Homo sapiens: one gene and its partners. The protein of the gene in region 2 interacts with the protein of the main gene of each other region in a biochemical or structural test. Each region holds a gene or a part of one and is shown on either strand. Other genes may lie near its edges. The genes, in order: BCAN, FBLN2, ACAN and FBN1.

Region 1 (6,948 bases), on a different chromosome or scaffold from region 2:
CAGCCTGTAGTCCCCATTGCTGTCTCCCTACTGCTCCACATCCCCTCCCACTCCACACTCCCTGTCTGCGGCAGCAAGAGCCCTCAGAGCCACACTCAGCCATTTCTGCCCCCCACCCCCTCCTGCCTGGGCTGGGGTCCCGTGCTTCCTGGCCTCTTTCAGAAGCTATCAAAGCCCCCATTCTCTGAACACAGCTGTGCCAGCATTCAGAGCCACATCCCCCTCTTCAGCCCTACTCCCACATGCCTATGGCACAAGACCCAGATGCCCGTGCAGGGCCTCGGAGAGGAACTCAGCTGCCTAGGCCCCCACTCCAAGTCTGGGAGAAAGGGGGCAGGTGTTCAAGGAGGTTGGCAGGACAGGCTCTCCCAGTGGCCACTGTGGAATAGAATCCAGTGAGGAAGGCCCAAGGCTAACACTGGAGATGGGGGGAACTCAGGATGCAGGAGCGTGGAGGGCAGATTCTCTTTTCTCAACTTGGGTCATGGCCTCAGCTTTGGCATGGATGGGGGATGTTGGGGGTCCGGTGGAGGCAGGAGATTGATTGTTCTCATCCAGAGAGGCTGGAAAATTCCCCAGGGCCCAGGAGACTGGGAGGCAGCCAGCTGGGCTGCACGTGGGAGAGGGAGGAGAGCTGCCCACGCTCTCCCTCTCTCTCTTTCTTCTCTCCACCTCCCTCTTTCTCCCTCCCCTGATAGACATCTGGGGAGCCCTGGCAAGAACCTTGGCCTGGGAGTCAGGAGACTTGATTTTTGGTCATGGTTCAGCCAGTTCCATGCTGTGTGACTCTGGACAGTTGCTTGACCTCTTTGGGTCTCAGTTTCCGTGTTCAGAAGATATTCAAGGTTACTGGAGGAATTTTTCTCCTGTTACTGAGACAGGAGGTTCTACCTGAAATCTGACTTTCATTCTTCCCGCTGCCATTGATTCTGTTTGCTTTCAGCCAATCCCCAGGGATCTCTTTCTGAGATCTGGAGGGGCTAGGCAGAGCCCCTCCTCTGGAGGGGGTTCTTGCCTCTGGAGGAGGCTGATTCTTGCCTCCTCTCAGAAAGTAAATAGAAACGGGGGAAGACACATATGGCCAAGTGTCCGTAATTGTAAAGAGAGTCTCTGATCAGCAATTGCTGGTTCAAACTGCAGGTTAGCCTTCAGTATAAATTTTCTCAGCTGGAAATGTTGGAAAAGCCTCAGAGTGCCCATTTCCTCCCCTGAGAAATCCTCTGGAAAGGTCTCTACTCCCAAATAATGAGCTCTCCAGGGCAGTGGTCCTCTGACCTCCTGGCCAGGAGATCTGGGCAGATTAGGTTGCTGTGTGTGTGCGCAAGTGTGTGTGACTGGGAAAGGAAAAGAACTAGATTTTGCTAAGCCCGAGTCATGGGCCAGGGGTTTCCCTTGCCTAGAACAGGTACAGTAGATATTGCCCAGTGCAGTAGATATTATTCAGCCCACTGTTCAGAAGAGAGAGTTTCAGAGGAGGAACGGGGCCCTTTCTGAGGTTTGCCACTGCAAATGACAAAACAGGAATTTGACCTCAGTGCCTGTGATGCCAGAGTCCTCGTCTGCGCAACAGCAGCTGTCTGTTCTCTCACCACGTCTGGTCTCCCACCAGGGATCTGCTTTTTGGAACAGACTGTCTGGTACCAGCCCTTGTCCAGACCCAGGTGCTGCTGGCCTCAGTCAAGGGTGGATTCCCCCAGGGCACCGAAGTGAGTGCCAATCCTTCTGGTCATGAGGAGAGGTGGTAAGGAAGGTCACTTTCTCTGCCTTCTCTGGTCACAGCCAGGTTTCCCTGAGGCAAGAACTGTGGTTACATCTGAGCCACCACTGGGATTAAATTTCAGCCGCTTGGTTGCCTGGCTCAGCCTGGCTGGCCTCAAGCCCTGTAGAGCCAGTGTGGAGGTAGGCTGGACACATGCATCCATGCTGAGACTGTCCTGAGGAAGGGGGGTTTTCTTGCAGCTCTGAAATGCAACTTCTAAGGGGAGCAAAAAGACATCCTAAGGCTGCCCAGATCTGTCCCCGAAGGCCTTCTCAGATCCGCTCTTTCTACTAGAAGAATTGGAACTGCATTTCCAGGCCTCGAGCAGTTCCTGGTCCACAGCTGGAATTCAATTCAACTCATATTGGTCTAACGAAGTAAATAGATCGAGGTCCCTTCCTCCCCAGACTGTCCCAGGCACCTTCCTCTGTCCCCTTCAGTCTTGCATCCTTTCTGGGGCATTTTTCTTTTCTTTTCTTTTCTTTTCTTTTTTTTTTTTTTTTTTTTGAGAGGGAGCCTCACTCTATCACCCAGGATATAATGCAGTGGCACGATCTCAGCTCACTGCAACCTCCACTTCCCAGGTTCAAGCAATCCTCCCTGCCTCAGCCTCCCAAGTAGCTGGGATTACAGGTGTCCACCACCACACCGGCTAATTTTTGTATTTTTTTAGTAGAGATGGGGTTTCGCTATGTTCACTAGGCTGGTCTTGAACTCCCGACTTCAGGTGATCCGCCCACCTTGGCCTTCCAATGCTGGGATTATAGGCATGAGACACCGCACCTGGCTGGCATTTTTCTTGGTAAGGAAATTTACCATCTACCCCTCCCTACCCCCCAGGTCTTCTTTTCCTGTCCCTACAGTAGATGGGTCTCTGGGAAGGGGCCAGAATCTTCCCTTTAGACCCTCAAAGATTTGGAGTGGGTTTTTATGTGAGGTTCTCAAAGCCCTTTGGAACCAAGTCCATGGCACTGGGAGTGAAAGCCAGGCAGTGGTGAGTGGGGGCGTTGGCACATTCAGTGGGGAGCAGTCCAGAGTTCCCAAGAGGGACCTAGGGTGCAGTCTAGATGGAAGGCTGGGGATCTGCCTTGAGGTTGCATTTGCATTGAATGCACCTTACTTTACTTGGGGTATTTTGAAGATGCTGTGGAGATTATGAGGATCAAAGCCCTCCAAAGCTATCCTTGGTGCCAATATTGGTATCCAGGGGAGGGAATCTAGGCATCTGGCTGTCCTGCCCACTGTCCGTGCCAGGGGCTTTGCCTACAGTCCCAGGAGGGAGGAGGGAAAAGCAAAGAGAGCCTGGGAAAGGAGAGGGAAGCAGAGGCCCTGGAGCTGGGGGAAAGGAGGGTCATTGGTATTCTGGGCGCTGAGGAGTTCCTGGCTGGGCAGCACTCAAGGCCCACCCCCTGGCATCAGGCTGCACATTCAGCATCGACAGCCCTGGCCAGTAGGCCTTCTGGGCTCCCAGCAACGCCTGCATTTTGCACATTGGTTTGCATGACTGGTAATGTCCCTTCACAGGGCCACCCTCACCCCACCCCCACCCCAGGTCTAGAGATTTCCTGAATTGCTTTGCTTAACCCATGATTCTGCTGTCTAACCTCCATCCTTCCAGCTGCAAAGTCAGCTCCTCCTCTGTGCAGGGAGTGGGAGCACCACAGGAGCCAATGCCCAATCATAGCTGCCTCCAGGGAGGTAGCTACGGTCCTTTGCACCCCATTCTGCCTCCAGAAAAGAGTTTTCCATTTTTTTTATTAGAAAGGGTGTCTCTTTTCAGGAGCAAAGCCCCCATTCTCCCTTCATCCACTTCTTACAGTCTAATTGACTCCCTCCTCCTTCTTCTTTGAACAACGAGAAGACTCTCCAGTTGTCCAACTTCCACCCCTCCAGCTGCAACATCGTCATCCTTTAGCTCAGCGAACGCTGGGCGAACGCTCCCTCCCCGCCCCTCCTGCCCCTCCTCCCTACTCCAAGCCCTCGGCTTCTCATCCGCTGAACGATGTCCTACTTCGCTCGTCCTTGCTCTCGCCGCTGCTGCCGGAGCCGAAGCAGAGAAGGCAGCGGGTCCCGTGACCGTCCCGAGAGCCCCGCGCTCCCGACCAGGGGGCGGGGGCGGCCCCGGGGAGGGCGGGGCAGGGGCGGGGGGAAGAAAGGGGGTTTTGTGCTGCGCCGGGAGGGCCGGCGCCCTCTTCCGAATGTCCTGCGGCCCCAGCCTCTCCTCACGCTCGCGCAGTCTCCGCCGCAGTCTCAGCTGCAGCTGCAGGACTGAGCCGTGCACCCGGAGGAGACCCCCGGAGGAGGCGACAAACTTCGCAGTGCCGCGACCCAACCCCAGCCCTGGGTAGGTGAGTGCCTCCGCAGCCCCGCCGCCCGCCGTGGGGTCGGGGACAGGGAGAAGGGAGTGCCTGCCTGGTCTGCGCCCCCCGCCTGTCAGCCCTTGCCTCGAGGCTCTGGGGCACCCAACTCGTCGACTCCTGACACCGCAGCGGGGTAGGCTGCTGGACAGCCCCGAGCGCCTGCAGCTGCTGCTGCCATCTCTGATCTACATGCTTCCAGCTCTGCCAGTGGCAGCCCCCCTGCTGCTCGCAGTCTGATCAGCAACCCCTCGGGTCCTCGCATCTTCCCTGCTGCGCGCTCCTGTCCCAGCGCGGCCGCCGAGATTTCCGACCTTGTCCCAGGCAGGGCGGTAGCGTTCCGGATCAGTCCTTGCCTCCGTGCCCCCACGCACAGGCAGCTCCAGGAGCAGCGGCCAGCAACCCTTCTGGGGACACCTTACTGTAGTCCGGCAGGACAGCCGATCAGAGCCGCTCTAGGGGGTGGTCGGAGTGCCCATTTCGGCTGGAATCCCAACTCGGCTCCTTGCTCTGTGACCTTGGGGTAGTTAGTTGACTTCTCTGAACCTCGGGTTCCTCATCGGTGTAATGAGCAAAACATAAACAATCTTTTTCTCACAGTTGAGGTTATCCACAGGAAGCATTTAGGAGAACTGGCTCAGGTAGACATCAGTAACTATTAGCTGGAATTCGGTTACCACTATTGCATTCCTTCCTAGCACTGCCAGGGGCCTGGGAATTCCCTCTCCCAGGTATTTCCATATCCTGTCAGGTATTCCCCCACCTATTGGAATAGCTCTGCCTACATGGTTCTAATAGGACCAAGAGATTGGCGTCAAGTCCAAGGGGCACCATTATTATCTGCATTACTTAGATTGCAGATGATGACAGTAAGATCAGGGAACAGTGTTACCCTTAGACCCACCCACAGTATTACCAGTGCCTATGTTGCTATGGCTAACTTTGCTATTTATAACAGCATCATCCACATTTCAGATTCTATACGAGAGGGATCTGCAACTGCTCGGCTGGTGTCATTGCTAATAGTATTATTAGTTTTGCTTCCAATAAAAAGGACTATTTATATGATGATTGCAATTACTTCTACAGGCCCTAAGGCCCTGCTTATATTGTGTAGGCTCATGTTGCTCCTCATGAAGCCGTTAAGGGGGTAGCAGAGAGCTTCCCTCCTGCTATAGCCAAAGCTCTGGCTTCTTGTGCCTCCCTGCTGACCCTGCTGAGTGCTGGAGCTCAGTTCCTATGGGACAGACCTTGGCTGCCGGCTGATGGGCATTCAGCATGGAGGTGGTGGGTGTTGTTAGATGTGTGTACACACGTGCATGCCTACACACACACACACACACACACACACAGAGAGAGAGAGAGAGAGAGAGAGAGAGAGAGACCTGGTCTTAACTCTCTGGGTTGGGTCTATGAAGACTGTGAGGGAGATGGACATCCCGGGTCAGACAGAAATGATGTGACAAGAGGAAAGTTTCCTGAACAGCTCAAGAAATTCAAAACAAGGGCAGAGATACAGACGCTGGAGCTGAAACAGAGAGGGGGATGTTGTGGCGTCAAGGGAACGGACCGCATGACTGCTGAGCTCTCAGGGTTAGAGTTGGAGAGGTGTGGCCTGCTCTGGAGGAAGAGAAGAGGAAGTGGAGATGAGTGGTGTGTGGGATAGAGAAGGCCACAGAACCCTGGACCCCTGGGTTCTGAGGCTGGTACCGGATGTGGGGAAGTCTGAGTTTCCTCAGGGCTCCTAGCTGCAATTGGGAGGCTGAGGCCCGAGACTGGAGAGACAGAGCTCTCTCAGAACTGCACGGGGCTACCCTCTTGGCCTCACTGGTCAGTGACTCCCATTTTTGGGGTCAAGGGTAGGTTGCCCTCCATGTTCCAGAGCAGTTAGGTCCTCATTGGCCTTAGGCCCTCTTCCCTCACTCTCCCACTGTCAGACAGAGGTGAAAGGGTGGTCCAGGGTGTTGGCCCCAAAATGACTCCAACTATATGGGTCTCTGGGCTGCCCGTCAGAGAGATGGGAGCCAGGTCTGTGAGCAGCTCCAGCTCCAGCCCAGAGAGAAGGGAGGGAGGGCACCAGAAGGGGGCCAGGCCCAGGCCCTGGCACAGCTCAGATGCATGGCAAACAGTCTTCCCAGCACCCGGTGGGCACTGGCTGCTCCTGCCCAATGGTCCCCACTCCAGCCCCAGAACAGTCCTCCCAAGCACCCCAATGCCTGGAGCTGGTCTCCGCACCTCTAATCTGGCCCCATCAAGAACCTCCTCCCTCTGAAAGGTCAGAGAGAGGCCCTAAGCATCTGGTTGTGCCACTCCTCTCCCAACTCTGACCCTAGGGAATGATATCCAGACACAGTGGGGGAGATGGGGGTTATGATGGCAGGGAGGTGGGAGGATCTGGGAAAAGTAGGAAATTTCCCATCATCTCAGGCTTAGGAAAGTGCAGGGACAGGTATGAAGGCAGATGCTGAGAGGGCAGGGAAGATGGGGGATAAACAGTGGGCCTGGAATGGGAGTGCACAGCCAGTGGAATAAACCTGATCTCTAGGAAGTCCTGCCTGTAGTCTAACCTTCAATTCTCTTGCTGCATCATTGGCCTATTCCATGGCATACCTGGATCTCCATGCTCTTCTAAGTTTAGCCCAACCCTTAAAGATGATGTAGCTCTGAGTCTTCTCTCCTGGGAGCACATTGCCCTCGTGCCTGACTTGGCTTTACTAGGGATCCAGGGTCAGCCCTATCCTTCTCTGAGCCTCAGTCTCCATTTCTCAATGTCACAACACATCCTTTTTATGAGAGTGTAAGTGCTTCGAGATCTTTGGAGGAATATTCTGG
Region 2 (7,203 bases):
TCCCCAAACCAGAATCCACCAGCAGCTCCTCATCACACCCAATCACCTGCACCTGCTGTGAGTGAGGATCACTTGAGGCCAAGAGTTCAAGATCAGCCTGAGTAACAAAGTGAGACCTCATCTCTACAAAAAATAGAAAATTAGCTGGCTGGTGTGCGTCTGTAGTCCCAACTACTTGGGAGGCTGAGGCTGGAGGATCACTTGAGCCCAGGAGTTTGAGGCTGCAGTGAGCTGTGATCACACCACTGCACTCCAGCCTGAGAGACAGGACGAGATCCTGTCTTTAAAAAAAAAAAAAAAAAGGAGGGGCCGGGCACGGTGGCTCACACCTGTAATCCCAGCACTTTGGGAGACTGAGGCGGGCGGATCACGAGGTCAAGAGATGGAGGTCAAGTGGCTGTGCAATCTTCACCTTAGGCCCGAATTTGCTGCAGAGAACCCAGTTTCACTTACCATCAGCATGCCCCAAGCATTTACGAAGCACCTATTGCGTGTGAGGTGTGGATGGGCTCAGGGCACTCCCCCCACGGCCAAGGAGACCAAGTCCTCCCACTAGTGGCTCAGTAAGAGGGGCAAAGAGCTTTGCTTTGGAGGGAAAAGATCCTGGGCTGAACCCCAGCTCTCCCCCTTGCCTGCTGGGAGGCCCTTTCTCTACCTCCCCTTCCCCGTCTCTTAAATAGGTGCAAGAGTTCCACCCTGCAGGAGGGATGTCGGGATCTGGGAAGAAAAGTGATGAATAAAGCCTGCCTCGGAGAATGCTCTCTGGCATGAGCTCTTGCTTCACGGGGTCCCCATACCACCGTCCCCCACAGCCTAGCAGGAAGTGTCTGCCACCATCACAAAGATGCCCTGTGGCCCAGGGCCCTGGGCACCACTCATTGCTTCAACGACTAAGGCCTCGAAGGGTAGGAGGCCCGCCCAGGGCTTCCCCAGCCATGCATGGAGGACCAGCCTGGGCCTATGCTTGAGGCGGGCAATGGAGCAAAATCAGCCCAATGCATGCAGCAGTCACAGCCGCACAAAGGCCACGCAGGCCAGGCAGGAGCTGAGAAGGCATGAGAGGGCCAGGTGGGGACGGGGACCAAACAGCGCCCCTGCCCCATCCCCTGGGTTGGGGGTGGGCAGCACCAGCCAGGAGATGCAGATCCTGAACTACCAGACCTTGTGACTTTTCAAGAGAAGACGGAAATCCGGACTTTTACGTGAAAACTGCCAATTTGTAAATGCAGGCAGCTAATTAATTTTTTAAAATAATAATAACATGGTGAGAGCCAAACAAAACATGCAGGGCCAGCCACAGCCGGGGCTGGCAGGTTTGTGCCTCCAGAATAAGATTCTTTGACTTCATCCCCTGCTCACCCCCATCACACAGCTCAGCTGCAGAAGGGGAGGGCGGGAAGTCAAGGGTGCACCCCAGGGGAGTAGCTCCCCCTCCCTCTCTTCCTCCTGCTGGGGAGTCTTCACCCCATTTGGCATATGGGGAAGTTAAGGCCCAGAGCCCCTATCAGCCACAAACACACACCAGCTCCCAATCCATGCCAGGCTGAGGGAACACTTCTCAGCTGCCACCCAATTCATCAGGGCTCCCTCTGGGAGGGCCCGGACCAGCATCTCAGGGGCATCAGGGTAGACACAAGCACCCAAACCATCCTGTTTGACTTCCCTTTTTCTCTTTTTGGCCTGTCAGGGGACGCCTGCTGGCTCAGGCCTGCTTGGGACTGGCCCAAGTGATCACTGCAAAGCTGATATGGGCAACTCCTTGTGGCAGCAAAAAAGGGAGGGAGGGCACCCCTATTTCGGAGACTGGAGCAGGGGAAGGGAGAGAGGATGCACGGAGGTGAGGAGTCAGGCCCAGCCTGAGGCTGAGCCACCCCCATGCTCCCCACAGCCACCCAGGTCCCATGGTAAGCAGCCTCTGTCAGGAGGAACCACCTCCCTCCTCCAAAATCGGCTCCCCACCCCCTAGGACAGGGGAGGACTGCCCATGGAGTGCCAGGGGGGCTGGGACTGTGAAGTCGTGGGGGTCTGTGACTCGTATGTGAGACTCACAGTGTGTGGCACTCCCAGTGTTTGTGATTCCAGGTATTTGAGGAGCACACGCATGTGAGAGACACATGTGTGATACATATGATGGAGATATGCATGTGATAGCTACCCCTGTGTGGCGGACGTGTGTGCGTGTCAGAGGGCAGTAAGGGCACATGTGTTTATCAGAGACACAACTGTCTGCTAGAGGCATGCCTCGGAGGGGTGCCAATGTGCAAGGCATGTGTGTGTGGAGCATTGTGTGCTAAGGGGACGTGAGATGAGTGTGAGAGATTCTGGCCTGGGGGAGCTGGCGGGGTGAGCATGGGGCTGGGAGAGGGAGGATGTGGTGACAGGCAGGGTGGGCGCGCCAATGCAGAGCGTGCAGAAACTTCTGCTTGTGTGAGTGCGTGTGTGGCGGTGAGTGTGACTTGGGGGTGATGGAGGGGGTAGTGTTAGACCAGGGACTCTAGTCTTCTTTCCCCGAGGGGGTTGACCCGGCCCTCTGGACTGGAGGGGCGGCAAGGTCCTGCGGTCGGGGTGGGGGTGGGCAGTGGGACCAGAGGGGATGACTGGTGGGAGCCGGCCCAGGGGGGAGAAGTGAAACCCAGAGCGGAGGAAGCTGCGGACCTGGGGTGGGGGAACCCGCCCGCGGACCCCTGGCCCCCACCCCGCGCCGGCCTCTGTGCCCGCATCTGTACACTGGGTCGCGGCGCTCGCGGGCCGTCCCCGCGCTGGGACCGGGAGAGCGAGACCCGGTCGGACCGGCGGCGCGGGTGGAGGCGCGGGCAGCCCGCGAGGCGCGTCCGAGGGTCCGCCGAGCCGTCGGTGCGTCCGAGCGCCCCCGAGTCCTGAGCTGCGAGGCGCGGACCGACGGGGATGAGTCCGGGCGGGAGGGGCCGCGTGCACTCACCGCGGGGCACTGCGCTCGGCGTCCGTCCGTCCGTCCGCCCGGCCGTCGGCGCGTCGAGAGCCCGGGCGGCCCCTGGCTGTGTGCGCGCGGGGCGGGGCGGAGGCGCGAGAGGCGGGACCAGCCGGCCCCCGGCCCCCTCCCCTGACTCCGCCTCCGCCTCCGGGGCGGGGTCTCGGCCGCCCGCCGGAGAGGGGGCCGGGCCGGCGCCGCTCGCTCAGAGCCCAGACTCGCTGACCCGGCTCCTAGAGGCCGCCCGGCGCGCTCGCTGCGGAGCCCGCACCCTCCCTGCGCCCGGCCTAACCTCTGAGTGCCAGACCTGGCACTGCTGCCCACAGGGCAGGGCCAGGGGTTGGGGTCCGGCCACCTCAGCCAGCCTGAGCCTCAGTGATCACCCCTGGAAGATGGGCCCAGCAGCCTTGGGCACATTGTGAGGGCCTGAGGGGCCCGGCTACAAAACTGCCCAGAGGCCAGGCCCTGCCTCCCACCCGCCTTGCTTCCTACCCTGGGGGCCTGCCTGCAGCCCCACTGCTGCTGCATGTGCCTGGGCAGACGGTACTGAGCCCCCAGCTTTGGAACAGGTTCAGTTTGTCCTTTTCCTCAGCCCAGCTCTGATGCCTGTGACCACTGTGTGACCCCCGGGGTGTCTCTTCCCCCAGCCCACACCGATCCCTTTCTGGGTCTCTTTCGGGGTCTCCATCTCTGATCTAATGTCATCTCTCTGTCTCCCTTGGTTTGTCCCTCTTGGTCTCTGCATCTCCCTCTGACTTTATCTCTTGGTCTCTGTGTCTCTCTGAGTCTCTCCCATCCCTGTCCAGAGACGTATGGCCTGGTGGTCACCACCTCACATCTGAGCAGCAGCCATGGGCCCAAAGTGTGCCTGCCCCCACCCCCAGGGGTCTCCCTGCAGCCCAGGACAGGGGTGAGGCAGCCAAGAGCAAAGGCACAGGGCAGGGCAGCTGCCTGCCCAGGGCCGCACAGCAGAGAGGAGGTGGAGCCAGGAAGGGCCCATTGGCTTAGATGGGGCCACCCACAGAGAAGCCAGGAGCGGATGGAGGGGCCAAAGCCTGAGCTGGCAGCCTGTGCCTGGCCTGCCCCAACTTGTGTCTAACCCCAGGCAGGTGCCTTCCCTCTGGGCCCGTTTCCCCATTGGAGCTCTGTGCTTGCTGTTCCCTCAGGGCCTTTGCCATTGCTGTTCCCTCTGCCTGGGATGCTCTTCCCCAGATCCACCGTGGCTGACTCATCCCTGCATTAAGATGCAGCTGAAATCCCACCACCCCCAGAGAAGCCCTCCCTGAGACCCCAGCAGAGGTAGCAACTACCACTCTCCACCCTGGGACTCGGCCGCACTGTTATTACAGTACTTGTCACTGGCTGATTTCTCTTATTCATTTATAAATGACTATAGGTAGGATCACCTGGTCATTAAGAAAGTCACCACACACCAGCTGTGTGACCTTGGGCAAGTTACTTCACCTCTCTGGGCTTTATTTCCTCAACTGTAAAATGAACATAACGACATCAAAGCCTATCTTATAATGTTATTGGAAAGATCAAATGAACCGAAATGAGCCAAACCGAAAGTACAGATGCTCCTCGATTATAATGGGATCATGTCCCCATAAACCCATCGTAAATCGAAAATATAGTAAGTTGAAAATGCATTTCATCCACCTAACCTACAGAACATCATAGCTCAGCCAAGCCTACCTTAAATGTGCTCAGAACACTTCCATTACTAGCCTACGGGTGGGCAAAATCATCTAATACAAAGCCTATTTTATAATGAAGCATTGAATATCTCATGTAACTCATTGAATACTGCACAGAAAGTGAAAAACAGAATGATTGCCTGGGGATTCCAAGTAGGGTTTCTCCTGGGTGTGTACCACTTTCTCAACATCCTAAATTCAAAAAATCCTAAATCGAACCATCGTAAGTCAGGGATTATCTGTACTTTGGATGGGACTTGACCCAAGGGAGTGCTCAGTAAATATCTGATGAGTAAATGACAGATTGAATCCTTCCTCCTGTGGGGGAAGGAGGGGCAGTGGCCTGGGGTGATAGAGACCCTGGGCAGCTGCTAATGAGGCTCCCTTCCCCAGGCCTGGGAGGAGAGGCACTGAGCCAGATGCAGCTCACTCTGCAGCCCAGGGAGCCCAAGGCCTGGCCCGCCTTCCACAAGATAAAGTGGAGACACTTCTCCCGTCCTGTTATCTGAGCCGGAGATGCGGCCAAAGCGGCTGTCCCTTCAGAGCCCTTCCAAGACTGTTATCGCAGACAGAGCACGCATCACCCACCAGGAATTTGGGGCCCAGGGCCTGGCTGAGAAATGGTTGGAGGAAGTCAGGCTGATAAGGCCTAGACAGAATGATCACAGTGGGCAGCGAAGTTATTTACATCAGTGACAATCTCACCAGCTCCCTGGGCACTGAGGCGCCAGGGCCAGCAGGCATGAGGCTCACTTGTCCCACCTGTGCAGCCTGGATTGGGAAGAGAAGCCTTGCTGAGCTTCCTGGGTCTGCATCCTCACTGGGTAGCCTTGGGGAGGCTGCCTACGTTGGAGCATGGGTTCTGGGACCCAATGGCTTTGATTTAAATCCACATCCTCCCTGTATGACCTTCAGCAGGTGGCTTCAACCCTCTGGCCTCAGTGTCCTAGCCTATAAAGAAGTTCCTGCCTTATAGGATTGTTTTGAAGTTAAGATGCTTACAGCAGTGTCTGGTATATCATAAGCCCTCCATTAAATGTTTGTTGTTGTTAATCACAAACAACATTAACTTGAGCTGTTTGGATGAGAAAAGAAATTTGTGATCACAGTGTGCCTGGAAACCAAGCTTCGGGGAGAAAGGCCCAGTGACAGGGCCCAAAATCTCGCTGCCCACCTGGGTGCAGACAGCGTGAGGGCTGCCCACTCCTTGAATGGTGGGCCCCGGACTCCCCGCCAGGACTTCTCCCCAGCTCCCTCCAAGGGTCACAGTGCCTCTCCTTCCCCAGCAGTGGGTTCGGCCCTGAGCCTGCTTAGTCATCTCTCCCACCTCCCATTTGACAGCAGCTGCAGCCACAGTGGGGGCAGTGTGGGTCTCCCATCTGTCCCCAGTTGCAAGAGATACTAGGAAAGTCAGTGTCCAGGCCCCCCAAGACCCTCGAGGGGAAGAATTCCACACGATAGGAAAGATATCTAGACATAGGCCCACCTCCCCCAGGGGACAGCCCCACCTGCCATCCTGCTGCCCAACGAAGACCCAGGACACCACACCCGCTCCCAGGCTTTAGAACAAGGCTTCTCAGACCTGGCAGTGCATCTGAATCACCTGGGGAATTTCTCTTTTTTGTTTTTTTTTTTTTGTTGTTGTTGTTGTTTTGGAAATACCACTGTCTAGACTCTACTCCAGAACAATTAAATCCCAGTCTCCAGAGGGTGGAGTTGGGCATCAGTACTTTTTTTTTTTTTGTAATCCCCAGTAGGTTGTAAGATGTGCTGCCAGATTTGAAAAACACCACTTGGGGTACCTCCCTCTAGCCTTCCTCTTCCAGCTTTGTCCCTCCCCAGAGTGAAGAGTCTAAGAGAACAATGAGATGTGCCCGCCAGGAGTCCCTGATGACCCCCTACTCCTTTCCAGATCATATGCCAGTGCCCGGAAGTCCCTGCTTAAATGGCCCTGACCCCCAAAGCCTGCACAAGTCTCTTTCCGTCTTCCCTCCTCCCAAGAGTGGACTGCACACCAGTCTATACACCCCAGGCCCAGGCCCGAGGGCAGCTGCTGGCAGGTAGCATGAGCAGAGCATGGACATGTGGGCACACAGTCACTCCTGGGAGCCGGACACAGTCACTCCTGGGAGCCGAGTTCAGGCTCTCTCTGGTCTGGATCCCCACTGCATCTCCAGCCTTTCACCCACCTACACCCCGTCCTTACATCCCAGAGCCCTACTCCTCACCCAATGAAAAGCTGATTTCTTCTCTTACACCAGGAACTTCCCCACCTCTCTGCCTGTCCATCCCACTGTGAATGCTGTTCCACCTACCCACATCCTTCCTACCCTGTGGCAGAAACCCTCATCGGCCCCCACCATTCATGTAAGAAACATAACTATAGAAATTTTAGATGGCTTTCTGGCTGAAGATTTCACTCCCACCCTCCCTGGCAGCCAGGTGGGACCACAAACATGTCGTGCTGTTGAATTGGGGCAGAGTAATGTGGACAATTTCTGGCTCATGGCCTTAAAGGAAAAGATGATACAGCCACTTTGTATTACCAGGTGAGAG
Region 3 (6,859 bases), on a different chromosome or scaffold from region 2:
GCACAAGAATCACTTGAACCTGGGAGGCGGAGGTTGCAGTGAGCCAACATTGGGCCACTGCACTCTAGCCTGGATAACAGAGCAAGACTCCCATCTTAAAAAAAAAAAAAAAATTCACACCAAAAGTTAGGACACACAGTCTCTTATCAAGAGAAAACATTTGAAATTTTTGCTATCCATAACTTGGGGTTTGTGACCCACAAGGGGGCTTAGGAGCTGTTAGAGGAGAGGAATTAAAGTTTGTGGTGCTTGCTGAGAGCTGGACAAGGCACCCACTTTATGTCTTTTAATCTTCACAAAAATCTCTTATCGGAGGATTTTCTCCCCTTTTTAGAGAAGAGGAAATGAAGCCTCTGGGAGGCTCAGTACCCTTATCAAAGCCATGTAGCCAGCGAGTGGCTGAGCTGGAATTTGAATCCCAGTCTTCCTTGCATGCAGGCTGTCCACCCTCCTGGCTCTTGCCGACTGTCTCAGGAGGTGAGCTCTCTCTTGGAGCTCCCTCTCTAATTGGGGAGGGGGCATAAGAGGAGGAGAACGCTCTGCCTTGGCATGCAGGGGTGAGTGGCTGCCTGGGATTGGGCGTGTGGGTGTGAGAGAGATGGGGAACAGGGGCAAGAGGTGTGCCTGGGTGTGTGGAGGGCTTCCGAACATTAAACAAAATATTCCCTTTTAAGTATGATTGTCAGTGAATATTCTAGAAAAAGAAAAACATTCATTTACTACTAGAATTAAGAATGATAATAGTAATATTAATAATATGAAACAGTTACTGAGTACTTGCCCAGTGCCAGGCACTACGCTAAGCCCTTTGCTTGGGTCATCTCATATCTGCTGTTTATTGAGTACCCGCTGTGGGCCAGCATTGAGCACAGAGCCTGGCACCTAGGTGGCGCTCAGCAGATATTGGAGAATGAATGAAAATACCAGGCACAGCACTAGAAACTACACGTAAGAATATCTAAATTAAACACAGCTCAAGGTAACCTGTGGAATTCCAGCATCTCTCCAAGAGATATCTTCTTCCTTTGGACAATTCCTTCTTCTGAAACTTTTTATACTGGGGAGATCTACTATTCTGCAATCTTTCTTTCAGGTTAGAACCTCTCCTCCCCACTGCCGCTCAATGCTTCCTCCCCCAACGAGCTTCAGGGTTTTCTTCCCCATTGCCTTTCCATTTCCTGCAGTTTCTCCCTGGAGCCTGTGATTGACAAGCCAACACTCCTAAACCGTATCTTCATAGTGCCTCCAAACCCACCTTGCCCAGGGTGCATGAGCAACCTGATTGCTCCTTGTCCATGGCAACCCAGGACAAGAAAGAGAGATAAGGATTAGAACCCAAGAATTCTGGACTCTTAAATCAGGACGAGGGACCGACTATGGCCTCAGAAAACCTGGATTCTAGTTCTGCCCTTGACCCTAAGTCACAGTTCAACCTTCAGAAATTCATTGCACCTTTCTGGGTCCACTTGCCCTCCTCTTCAGACGAGGTGGGTGAATTTTCAAGGTCCAGAGTCCCCTCTAAACTGTCAGACACCCACCCACTGCAGCACCCAGGACCCCAAAACACCGTGCTAACCCAATTCAGCTTTGTATTTTCCTCCTGGCAGCCAGCCCCACAGAACCAGAATTTACACATCAGTCAACATGCTGGAACTCCAGCTTCTTCATGGTGAAACCCTAGTAGGATCCTGTCAGAACCCAGCTCATGACTGAAAGGAGGATAATGATGGAAAAGTTTGGGTTGGATCCTGTCTCACAACCAGAGACAAGCCCCCACCCCCGCAGCTTGCTCTGCCCAGAGTGTGGTTCAGTTGACATACTGACAGCCTCCAACCCAGCCCCAGGGTTGGAAAGGGCTCCTGCTCCACCAGCATTGGCTTCGTTTGAAGAGGAACCCACAGACGGAAAAACCGCTCGTGGTCGTGTGTCCTCAACTCCCCTCCCCTTTCTTCCTTGAGAAATGCCCCTTCTTGGTTGGACACCCGTGTGTTCAGGGCACTGCTCTCCTCTCCCCTGCTGGCAGTTCAGTAGCTCTGTCCCAGGTTCTGCCACTCTCCCCTGGGCAGACTCTTCAGGCACTCTGGTCCCTGGAGTAAGCCAAGTGGCCAAGGATGGACTATCTAGCCTCGGCTTAGGACCCGCTGTGTCCCTGACATAGTGTCCATATGATTTCATTTATTCTTCCAGACCCCGCGAAGGCCTTTTCCCTCTCAGCTGACAGACGGCAGGCCAAGGCTCAGGAAGGTGAAGCACACCTTCCAGCTCAAAAGTAGCACCTCGGGGATTTGAACCCACATTCCCTTGACTCTGAAGCTGCTACTCTGTCAACCATGGGTCTTTCCAGACCCTAGGATTTAAAATCACCTAGGTGTTTGGAGAAAAGGCTCCCTTGTTCCTTCATCCTGGCGGACTAGGAGACAAGTGCCCCTCCTCACGTGTTCCTTTGCCCCATTCACTGAGTCTGCAACAGCCAAAAAGTTTGCTCAACTCCACCGCGGACGCAGCCGGTGGATGTGCTGCGCCCCCGGCACACATAGCTCTAGGGCGGAGACCAAGGCAGTGCAGCCCCCAGCCCCGGGGCGTGCAGTCTCAGTCCCGTTCCTGGCTCGCCGGGCGCCCTGGGAGAGCCTCGCTCTGGAGGGAAGGAGACAGTTACCTTGAAGAGTTGGACTCCCTTCTCCAAGAACTTCAGTCCCACACACCTGGCGAGGCAGCTGGGGGCTCCTGGGGCCGGGAGGCCCGGGTCTCGCTGCGTAGCGAGGGAGACGCTCTGCGCGGGCGCTGCGCACCCCTCCTCCTGCCGGCGTCCTGTCCGCAGGTCCCCTCGGGCTGTGGCCGCAGCGGCAACTGCTGGGTTGCGGAGTCCTGGCTGGCTGAGGGAATGGACACTGAAAGGTGCCCGGAGACCCTGGCACCCGCGTCAGACGCCGGCCGGCGAGGGTGCTGAGAGAGAGAGACCTTGAGCAGCGCTGCGCGCGTCCTCAGCTCTGCGAGCCCCCTCTGGAGCGGCGGGGAGGTAGGTGGGCGGGCGGGCGGGCATGGCGCGCTGTGACACATACATAGGGACGGGCGGGGGAGGGGAGGGCCCGTGAGGGGTGGGGGCGGGAGGGGGCGAGCGCAAAGGGAAACCCCACCCCCAGGGACCGAGGGGCGGCCGACAGGGGGAGGGGAAGGCAGAGGCGTCTGGAGCGCGCTGGACCCTGGCTCCGGACCGGCGCGCCGATGGGGAAGCCGGCCTGCGCTCAGGGCGGGAGAGGAGCGCTCCCCGGGGCGGCGCGGACCCGGCAGCTCCGGGGCTGGCGGGAGGAAGGCGGCGCGAGAAGGGCTGGAGGGCCCGCATCTGCATTGCGGTCGGCAGCTCCGCAGTCGGAGGGGCCCAGGAGGGCTGCACCCTCAGAGAATCCCCAAGTGCCCGGACTCTGAGGCCGCCGCGGCGGGACAGGGCTCCCGGGCGCCCGGCGGGGTTCTGCAGCTGAGGCTGGCCACGACGCGATCTAAGGAGGGTGCAGCCCGCTACTGTCGGCCACGATTTGGAACGACCCTCACCGAGGAGCTGGCTGAAAGTTTTTTTGGGGGTGGCGTACACCGGGATGGCAGGGGATGGTGGAGAGGGGGAGGTAAGGCGTCAGCGGGGAGGCTCACGGGGAGCTGCGAGTCTCTGGGTCTTCAAATTCCCCGGGAGAGACCAAGGACATCTCATATGAAGCAGGAATTCTCCAGTGTCTCTACAGTACTCTTTAATACCGTTTTCAGGAAAAGGAGAAAAAGAACTAGCAGCTTTTGAATCCCTCCTATGAGCCCGTTGTGTAACATACATTAACATTTCATTTAATTTTTCCAAAGAGCCCAACAAGGTAAATATGGCAACTTCCCACCTGCCCCTAACCAAAGATGTGAAAACTGAGGCTCAGAAAGTGGTGGAGATCCCTCTTGAAGGTGGGACTGAGTTCGAGTCCCAGGTCTTGTGCTCTCTGCTACACAGGCTGCTGGTTGAGCCACAGCACCTTCGGAGGACTCAAGCTGGCTGGTGACCTTCAGAGTTCTTGTGGAGGAAGCTGGTGGTGCTTCACACCAGGATGTGGTGGCCACAGTCAGGATGGTGGTGGAAGCTTCCTGACCCTCTCATTGGGCAAGAAGAGGAAGAAGTGGAATCTTTCGGGACTCCCCACTACAGAGATAATAGACCACACTTTAATCAGTTCCTTGATGAAAAGGAACTGAAGTGCCTCGGTTTCCCCAGGGCGACTCCACTGGAATTATGTGGTTATTTTACTGGCCATCTCTGCCTGGGGGCGGGACTGGCCCTGGCCCAGCACATGCTCTGTGAGCCGCCTGTCTCTCCCCTGTCCAGGGCAGTGAAGCCCCGTCGGAGGGAGCATAGTGCCCACTCTATCCACCCACCTCTCAGAGCAATGGCTAAAGTGTTCCAGTGGTTGGCCATTCTTGATTTCACCCTTTTTCTACCTGAGCGTATTGAGTCAGGTCTGTAAGTCTTGAAGCATTTAGGACACAGACAAAATGCTGGTGACCGAAGCCCCTTAGGGGGTGATAGTGGCTTCTCTCACAGATAAAGAAATGAGATGAGGCCGGGCGCAGTGGCTCACGCCTGTAATCCCAGCACTTTGGGAGGCCGAGGCGGGCGGATCACGAGGTCAGGAGATGGAGACCATCCTGGCTAACACGGTGAAACCCCATCTCTACTAAAAATACAAAAAAATTAGCCGGGCGTGGCGGCGGGCGCCTGTAGTCCCAGCTACTCAGGAGGCTGAGGCAGGAGAATGGCGTGAACCCGGGAGGCGGAGCTTGCAGTGAGCTGAGACGGCGCCACTGCACTCCAGGCTGGGCGACAGAGCAAGACTCCGTCTCAAAAAAAAAAAAAGAGATGAAATCTTAATAGTTACTGGCCTCAATGCCTGGAACAGGGAGAAATGACCCTCTGGGAAAAAAACAGTCCCTGAAATTCCAACGAGGTCATGGATTCTCATGCCTGTGTTTACCTGATGCCTTGTGGGAGAACAAATTGCTCTCATTTGTAAAATGGGTTCATGTCAACATTCATCCTAGGGCAGGTGGGGTTAATGAAGAACAAGTCAAGGGCAAATATTAATTAGGCGATTTATCTTTGTATTGAAGGGAACAAATGTTTATTGATCATCTGGTTTTGTAATGAGTCTAAGAAACATATATTGGGCACCTATTATGTGTCAGATGCTGCTTGGTACAGCAGCCTCTCAGATGGATGCCATTCCCATTTACACACTAAGAAACCAAGACTCAGAGGCCATCAAGGTAGTGAATGGGATTGGAGTACAGGCTGGTATGAATTCACACTCCCTAGCCCTAAAGGATACAAAAAACCCAGGATAATGGCAACGCATTTGGACACTTTAAAGACAGTATTCAGAGAGTCAAAGGACATGCGTGTCAGAAGGCCCTTGGTGGCATACACAGGCTCTTCCTGTCCAACTCAGGAGCTCTGTTCCAGTGTAATATTTCTGAAGCTGGTCATCTCCTCTTCTGCTAGAATACTTTACAGTTGCCTAATGCCTTTTCCAGGCTGCCCGATGCAGTCTGCTGTAAACTGGCAATTTCTAACCTCTTGCTGCTCAGAGTATGTTCTATAGACTGGCAGTGTCACCTGGAAGCTTATTCAAAATGCAGAATGCCAGGTTCCCCAGACCTACTGACTCACAATCTGCATTTTAACAAGATCCCTCCCGTGTTGTATATGCCTGCTGAAGTTTGAGAAGCACTGTGCTGACATCATTCAGCAGGTTCTACTCATTCAATCACAAATCACAGAATAAGAGAATCTCAGAGCTGGGAAGAGCTCTTGGAGAACTTTAAGGACACCCCTCCATAGAGTATGTCAGTCCTGTCCATGATGTTTCCCTCAAGTAGGACATCAGACTCTGCTTGGATGTGGCCATGAGTTTGACTCCCTTCTGAGGCCACATCCATTTTTTTCACGTGGTTCTTGTATTTAGGCAGCTTTCAGCTTTCACAGAAGCTCATGCCCAATACTGTGGATTCAGCAGTGAACAAGACAGGCCCATTTCCATCCCCCCAACCCTAACCTGTCCCAGGACCTCCTGCCACGTGATAAACCTTTCTGTTTGGAATCAGTGATCTCAAGTCTCTCCCTTCTCCCTTTTGGATTGGGTCCAGAGGAGAGCTCACCTCAATAACCTGGGTCCTGTGCTTCTGGTAATGCAGCCAACATTTATGTGCTTTTATGACAGCCTCATCATGACTCATTTGGAGCCTGCAGCCAGCTCAGACTTCCTTTTCACAGTGCTTCTGCCACCTAGCATCTCCTTTGGCTTATCCTGGTACAATGGGTTTTTCCAATCCAAGTGTGGGGCTTCATTTTTGCTTCTTTTAAACATTACACTAACTAATTCAGTTTACTACTTCAGATCATCTTGGATTCTGACTCTATTATTCTGTGTGTTTGCCATTCCTCTTAGCAGCAGACATTCTACAAAGCTAACTAGTGTGCCACTTCTATGTTTTCATTCAGGCTGCTCATAAAAATATTGCCTGGGACGGAGATTAGGGCTGAGTTCTAGAGCAGAGCACTAGAGACAGCCCCCCTGGAATGAACGACATAATCCGATATTCCAGTTATAATGGCTGTGTAACAAATCACCTCAAAACTGAGTGTCTTAAAACAATAGTTATTTAATATCTCTCATGGTTTCTATGGATCGGGAATTTGGGAGAAACTTCGCCAGGCAGTTCTGGCCTGGACTAGCTCTTGAAGTTGTAGTCAGATGTCAGTTACAGCTGCAGTTAGCTGAAAGCTTGACTGGGGCTTGAGGATCCATGTCCAAGGTGGGTCGCTCACGTGATTGGT
Region 4 (7,034 bases), on a different chromosome or scaffold from region 2:
TTAAAAACCAAAAGACATTTGTGCTGAGCCTTTTTCTAAATCACTGCTCATTTTTCCAGACATCAATGAATGTGAAATTGGAGCACACAACTGTGGCAAACATGCTGTATGTACCAATACAGCAGGAAGCTTCAAATGTAGCTGCAGTCCCGGGTGGATTGGAGATGGCATTAAGTGCACTGGTGAGTAGGAAAGTAACAGAGGTTGCTTATCAAGGACTGCATAGATTACACATATGAAAATATTAATTATGTAAAGTTATTTTAATTTGTGTATTATTGGTTTTAAATACCACCCTTTCTGTTAATAATGATATAACCTTTTTCTATAAGATCTGGACGAATGTTCCAATGGAACCCATATGTGCAGCCAGCATGCAGACTGCAAGAATACCATGGGATCTTACCGCTGTCTGTGCAAGGAAGGATACACAGGTGATGGCTTCACTTGTACAGGTATGTTCACGCTGGAAACAACTGTGTCAACACTAGTCAGAGAAGCCAGGCATTCCACATTTCTCAGGCTAGCAATTCTTTTTTGAAGACTGGGTCAGTTAATAGAAAAGATTCATCATTTGGCACTAGAGCTCTGTGGGAAAAAAAAAATTGGAACCAGGTCAATTAGGGAGACCTCAAAAGCTTCTCGATAGGTAGATACGTAGGTAGATAGATAGATAGATAGATATTTAGGTGCCATTATCACATCATTTACAGTGATCTGTGCTCTAACATAAAATGATACCAAAAAAGTCATACCATTCTCCACCTCAAGTCAGCTAGGCCTTATAATAGTTACAATTGGCATATATATCATTATATGACTGTATATAATGATGTCATTAGTTTAAACAAATCATACTTCCTTTTATATGCCTAGCCTTTATTTATTATTATTTTTTTTTTGCCTATTTCTCACCAATGACTTCCTTTCTGTACCAACACAAGGATAAGCTTGCTGTAGGGAACTATGTAAGGAGAAGGGATTAGATGTTCTAGATTAGAAGAACAGTATGTATTTCTCTCCAACAGGCCATCATCATCATCATTATCGTCATCATCAACATTCCATATTGGTATAAGTAAAAATTTCAAACCTGCTATGGAATTCATTCACTTCCAGTTTTGCAATAATATATTAATGAAATTTTCTTTTTGGCTCTAATTAATAGCCATAGAATTAACATAAACTTCTATACACATGTAAACATACATGATTAGACTTGTCATTACATAAATTATACATATACTTACATGTGCATATATTTACAGACAGCACTTTTTATATCAGAGCTCTGGAGTTAAATAAAATAATAAGATCCATTAGCCATTAGGTCGCATAGCTGCTCCTATAACTTAAAACATTGATTTATCCTGAGCACTTTGTTCATAAAAAGTCATTTAAGCACAATAGAGGCTAAGGCTCATTAAGTGATTTACCTGGAATTTTTTTTTATTCCCTGAAAGTTTTATCTCAGATGAAATCATTTTTGCCTAACTTATTGATGTTTTGTCATCAAAAACCTCCCATCATTTTGAGAACATATTCAAATTCCATGTATTAGGCATGTGTGGTTTATGTGTTTGATATTTAAATGCCTGTGATTATTAAGAAAACTAGGTAGAGATTAAGCAGATGGAATTTTTCTTCTCCCTATGGTTGCCATTCTTTTGCACTTTTGGTGCCCATCTAAGCTAAGCCTGAAACTTGAGAAATAGACACAAACATGATGTGTCATTTCCTGTCATGGGTGTGCCCTCCATGCGGATGACCCTTCTTGAACAGGCCTTAGTTTGCATGATTCCTTCGGCTTATTCATTTTATATCATTCAGGGTAAATTATCATTCAGGATTCTGAATCAGCCACATGTAAATTTCATATTCAGTGTTAGCCTACCAAAGAGAAAAATAAATGACTTTAAATGTGTCAAATTGAAGTTATGCCAAAACATTGCTGCACTGGAAAGTTGATAGACCTGAGGAATTAGAAAGCCCCTAACCGAGGAAGAGTAACGTGTGTTTCTTTCTGGCTGTAGACCTTGATGAGTGCTCTGAGAACCTGAATCTCTGTGGCAATGGCCAGTGCCTCAATGCACCAGGAGGATACCGCTGTGAATGCGACATGGGCTTCGTGCCCAGTGCTGACGGGAAAGCCTGTGAAGGTAACTGATGGGGAAGCCACTGGGAGCCTTGCTGGGCTTGATGAGATTAGGTTATTTAAACATTCCTGATGCTTTTTTTTTTTTTTTTTTTTAAACTGAGGTGTGTTTTAGCTTCATTTCTAAGCTGGTCAGTTCAGTTTGTAGAGGGATTAGGTTTCCAGCTGACCATTTCTCTTGCTGCACAGAAAACCTCAGCTGACTGGCCACAAGCTGTACATCCAGCCTTGGCCGCATGGTCTGCAAGGGTGTATCCATTGGTCAATGAGGGTAACCAAGTGTGGTTAAATCAGTGCAACCCATTTATCCCTACGGAGGGGGATGCAACCTGTTAATCCCTACTGAGGGAGAAAAGAGCTGAAAGTGCAAGTTCCCTGATAATGTCCTGTTGTGGGATTATCACTAAATATGGAAACACAGGTTTTAATCTCCACTGTATTTGGTTTGTAGAAATAAAAGCAGAGCAAATAGTCTTGTCCATACGTAGAATGGTATGTCTCACATTTGCTCTAAATATCTAACATATATGAACATGGAACAGTTTTGCAAATCTGTTCAATAGGGGACCCTTGGGATACTGCCATATGGCATGGTATCGCTCAGCTTTAGGCTCTGTCATTCTGATAAGTGTTGGTCAGACACGAAGAGTCCTGGGAACCTGTTAGCTAAGGCTGGATCCCATTAGGGAACACAAGATTCTTCCCTTTACCCACATTTGTCAAATTTAAGCACATTCTCCTTCATTGAAAAGAAGATTTCAGTAGAAATAAACAAATGATAACGATTGTCAGTAGAAGTTTAAACAAGACCCTGATTAATGTATTAGTTAATAGTTGTTCCTTGTTAACAAGACGTGAACTCAAAATCAGTCATTAGCTATGACATGTATACTAATTCCCTCATGTATTTTTATGTGAATACTTTTCTTTGTTATGGAACCGTTGGGTGTTCTTTATACAGTTTATATTAAATATGCAGAGTTTGATATAAAACTCCTTGGAGTCAAGAAACCAGATTATGCTCTTGATCATGTGCCTAATACCTTGTTTACTTTTGTTACTCCAAATATCCAAGGAAAACAGGTACTGTGCCACCTCTGGTGACACAAATAGTCACAGTGAAAGTTTTGCTTCTCTTATTGCTATAAGAGAAGGTTTTGTTTGTTTGTTTGTTCTTAATATAAATCATGGCTGGTGGAGTGGTCATGGCTATTTAAAGCTAGTCTCAAGCCTGAAAATGTGACTGTGTGTCAACTGCACACGAAGAATGTTAACAGGAGGCAGAGACAGAGGCCTGGAAGAAGCGTGTGCGGTTTTCCAATCTCCGTCAACAAAGGCAAACACATGCCATAGGACTAGGGACACTGGAGATTATGCAACTAATTATGACAGTTCCCTGAAAGACATTGTGGCTTGTGAAATTTTAATTCACAACAAAAACAGTGACTACATAGATAGATTAAAAAAAAAAAACGAATTTAGCGTAAGGTGGCTTGCTTGCCTCTTACTTTACGAAAGTGATGTGGACCTACGTGGAACACTACAAATGAGATATGTATCTATAAAATGCTCAGCCCGCTGCTTGGCATGTAATAGAGACTGAGGAAAAGTAACCTCTCACCTACGAGACTTCACTGTGCATGGCAAATCATCTAAAAGTCTATAGGAGAAGTGCCCAGATTGGTGTTAGATACTCTGCATTTTCTTAGTATTTACATTAGTTGCCTAATTATATTTGGCAGGTTTTTTTTAGAAAAATATAAGTTAAGTTTTTTGCTTTTTTCTCCCTCCCCCCAAGATATTGATGAGTGCTCCCTTCCGAACATCTGTGTCTTTGGAACTTGCCACAACCTCCCTGGCCTGTTCCGCTGTGAGTGTGAGATAGGCTACGAACTGGACAGAAGCGGCGGGAACTGCACAGGTAAGACCTCCACTGGCATCAAAATCAGCTCCCTGGTGTCCCGGGGGACCCAGCTATTGGAGCCTCCCTGGGACTACACAAGGGCCGTCACAGAAGACAAGAAAAGCAAGGGGGAAGTATTAAGAATCACAGATACCTTTTCTCAGACCTGGAACTGATTGGAGGTGAGGATCCAGAGGAAAGAGTCTAAGACAATTGAAGGAGCACAGTTTGTAGCCTTGAAATTGAGTTTGTGGCTACAAAGGAATGTTCTAGGGGTGCTCTAGTGGTGTAGCTTCCCAGCCATTTCCTTTTCTACTTGGGTACATTTTTGGAGAGTTTCGTTTTGGAGGCCATGCCCCGGGATCATGGGTTTTCTCCTTGTACTTCGTTGTTGCAATACCCACCCCACTCCTTCCTACCCCTGCCCTGCTCGTGGTCACCAGAGTACTGGGTACACAGAGCTCAGCCACCTATCTCTAGTGTATAAATCATTTTCTTGTTGAGCCAAGGACTCTCAGGGAACATTAGAAAAAGCTTAGAAAAACTACAGGCACCCAGCAGACTGACACTCGGTTCTCTTTGGCACTAAGACTTTGAAAGCCATTTGCATTTCCCCTTCCTAATTCACCCCTCTGTTCAAGGATACTGAAGAAACAACTTATGTTCTGTATGAGTTCAAATTTCCGGAAAAAATCTGGTCTTTTCAACCACCTAAACAAACCATGACTCAGGGGCTCTCCAGATCATGACCACCACCACCACCCTGCAAATGCTCTGGATGGAGTATTCCTCTCCAGCCACACATTCTTCCCTTGGTTTTCCTTAAAGCTATTACGAGACCAGGCTGGGTCTCTTGCATGCCTCAGGAAGTCCCCCTCTCCATGGCCTGTACCCTGTCCTGCGTGCCCCAGATCACTATCAACATCATTCTGTCTAATCTCGTTTCTGTTACTCTGGCCCTGTCCGTCCAAATTCACATGCAATTTGAACAAAAAAATCATCTGCAGCGCAACCCGCAGGAGGGTTGCCAGATCCAAGGGGAGGACCAAGGCAAAGGTGTTGTCCCTCTTCTCCAGTCCCTCCTCACAGAAGCCGTTTGTCTATTCTTGAGTATTTCATGAGTGTTCAAAACAGACAAAAGGAATTGTACAGAGTGGAATTTGCCAAAACCCATGTCCTAAATATCTGGAATTCTGTACATATTTTTGGAATAGAAACTGAAAGGGAAATATTCAACTCAGCATGGATGATGGGAGAGACACTCCTTGCCGACCTCAGGGAACACACTAAGCCTCACGCGTGTGTGTCAGGGGAAGCAGCAAGAGTTGCCCTTCTGAGGGTTTCCTGGGACATCTTGCTCTAATTTGATGAAATAACAAGCCACATATACTCAATATATTTTCTTAAAACCTGTGTCTGAATTTTTGGTTGACCGAGGTCACAACAGTGTTTTGCCTTCAGTTACCTTGACTGGAATATTTTTCCTAGTGCCAAAGTTATATATATATATGTAATATATATTATATTTTATATATATATGTAATATATATTATATTTTATATATATATATATTTTTTTTTTTTTGAGACGGAGTCTCGCTCTGTCGCCCAGGCTGGAGTACAGTGGTACCATCTTGGCTCACTGCAAGCTCCGCCTCCCAGGTTCATGCCATTCTCCTGCCTCAGCCTCCCGAGTAGCTGGGACTACAGGCACCCACCACCACGCCTGGCTAATTTTTTGTATTTTTAGTAGAGATGAGGTTTCACTGTGTTAGCCAGGATGGTCTCGATCTCCTGACCTCGTGATCTGCCTGCCTCGGCCTCCCAAAGTGCTGGGATTACAGGCGTGAGCCACCGTGCCCGGCCCAAAGTTATATTTTATCCTGATGACAAATTTGAATGGTAAATGTGTTCTGGGGAAAGACCACCAAAGACTATATCATATTTCCTTCCTGAGGTGTTTTATCTCTGAAGTGGAAGACTGCATTTCTAGATGTAGTTATAACTAGTAGCTTTAAAATTCTTGTTTGGAGCTCTAGATTGGGCCCTGTTCTTTTATGGTGATGTCTGCCTACACTGGCTCAGGTGATAACTCCACTACTCACTGTTCGGTTTTAGATGTGAATGAATGCCTGGATCCAACCACGTGCATCAGTGGGAACTGTGTCAACACTCCAGGCAGCTATATCTGTGACTGCCCACCTGATTTTGAACTGAACCCAACTCGAGTTGGCTGTGTTGGTAAGACCTTAAAAACTTTTCAGAGAAGCAAGCATACTGTGTATTATTTTGAAAACAGCACCAAACATTCCATTCTCAAAGTTTGCAAAATGAATGATACAGAAATTTAAACATTTCCTAACTCTACTTTAGATTCAGATATCTTTTCCATAGGGAAAATTCTCGGTAGTGTATAATGTTCATGGGCACTTTTTAGTTTCTCAGTAAAAGTAAATTACGGTTTTTGAACAGTTCCTGAAGTGGGTTTGAATTTTCAACCCCAGTAGAAAGATTCTGCCTGATGCTTTTGTGTTTGTATATGGTAAATAGATACCCGCTCTGGAAATTGCTATTTGGATATTCGACCTCGAGGAGACAATGGAGATACAGCCTGCAGCAATGAAATTGGAGTTGGTGTTTCCAAAGCTTCCTGCTGCTGTTCTCTGGGTAAAGCCTGGGGTACTCCTTGTGAGATGTGTCCTGCTGTGAACACATGTAAGTGGACATCCTCCTATTTATTATTATTTCAACTCCAGCCAGTTCTCCTTTCTAGATCAGAAGACAAACCTTTTCTACTCTTAGATCAGAGAAGAAAGATCAGTCCTCTCAGCCCTGTAGAGGGGACCTTATTCCCAATTCGAGAGTCAGAAAATATTCCTGGTTGGCTCACACTAAAAGATCAGGTAGGGCAGGTAACATCTCACTTCTGTGTAAGTGAAAAGCAGATAGCATTACTTTAAAGATTTTCCAGACTAGG

The links.
Region 1: the proteins of FBLN2 (region 2) and BCAN form a complex in vitro, tested with the Homo sapiens proteins (one study listed by BioGRID).
Region 3: the proteins of FBLN2 (region 2) and ACAN form a complex in vitro, tested with the Homo sapiens proteins (one study listed by BioGRID).
Region 4: the proteins of FBLN2 (region 2) and FBN1 form a complex in vitro, tested with the Homo sapiens proteins (one study listed by BioGRID).

The regions. Positions count from the first base shown.
Region 1 is NC_000001.11:156,638,169-156,645,116, forward strand, and holds the start of BCAN (brevican core protein isoform 1 precursor), read left to right. Parts: upstream 1-3,948; 5' UTR 3,949-4,107; intron 4,108-4,214; exon of another isoform or gene 4,215-6,948. UniProt on the Homo sapiens protein: May play a role in the terminally differentiating and the adult nervous system during postnatal development. Could stabilize interactions between hyaluronan (HA) and brain proteoglycans.
Region 2 is NC_000003.12:13,544,944-13,552,146, reverse strand, and holds the start of FBLN2 (fibulin-2 isoform a precursor), read right to left. Parts: upstream 3,023-7,203; 5' UTR 2,939-3,022; intron 1-2,938. UniProt on the Homo sapiens protein: Its binding to fibronectin and some other ligands is calcium dependent. May act as an adapter that mediates the interaction between FBN1 and ELN.
Region 3 is NC_000015.10:88,799,607-88,806,465, reverse strand, and holds the start of ACAN (aggrecan core protein isoform 3 precursor), read right to left. Parts: upstream 3,031-6,859; 5' UTR 2,657-3,030; intron 1-2,656. UniProt on the Homo sapiens protein: This proteoglycan is a major component of extracellular matrix of cartilagenous tissues. A major function of this protein is to resist compression in cartilage. It binds avidly to hyaluronic acid via an N-terminal globular region.
Region 4 is NC_000015.10:48,467,676-48,474,709, reverse strand, and holds part of FBN1 (fibrillin-1 isoform a preproprotein), read left to right. Parts: intron 1-59; coding exon 60-182; intron 183-332; coding exon 333-455; intron 456-2,033; coding exon 2,034-2,159; intron 2,160-3,953; coding exon 3,954-4,076; intron 4,077-6,175; coding exon 6,176-6,298; intron 6,299-6,607; coding exon 6,608-6,772; intron 6,773-7,034.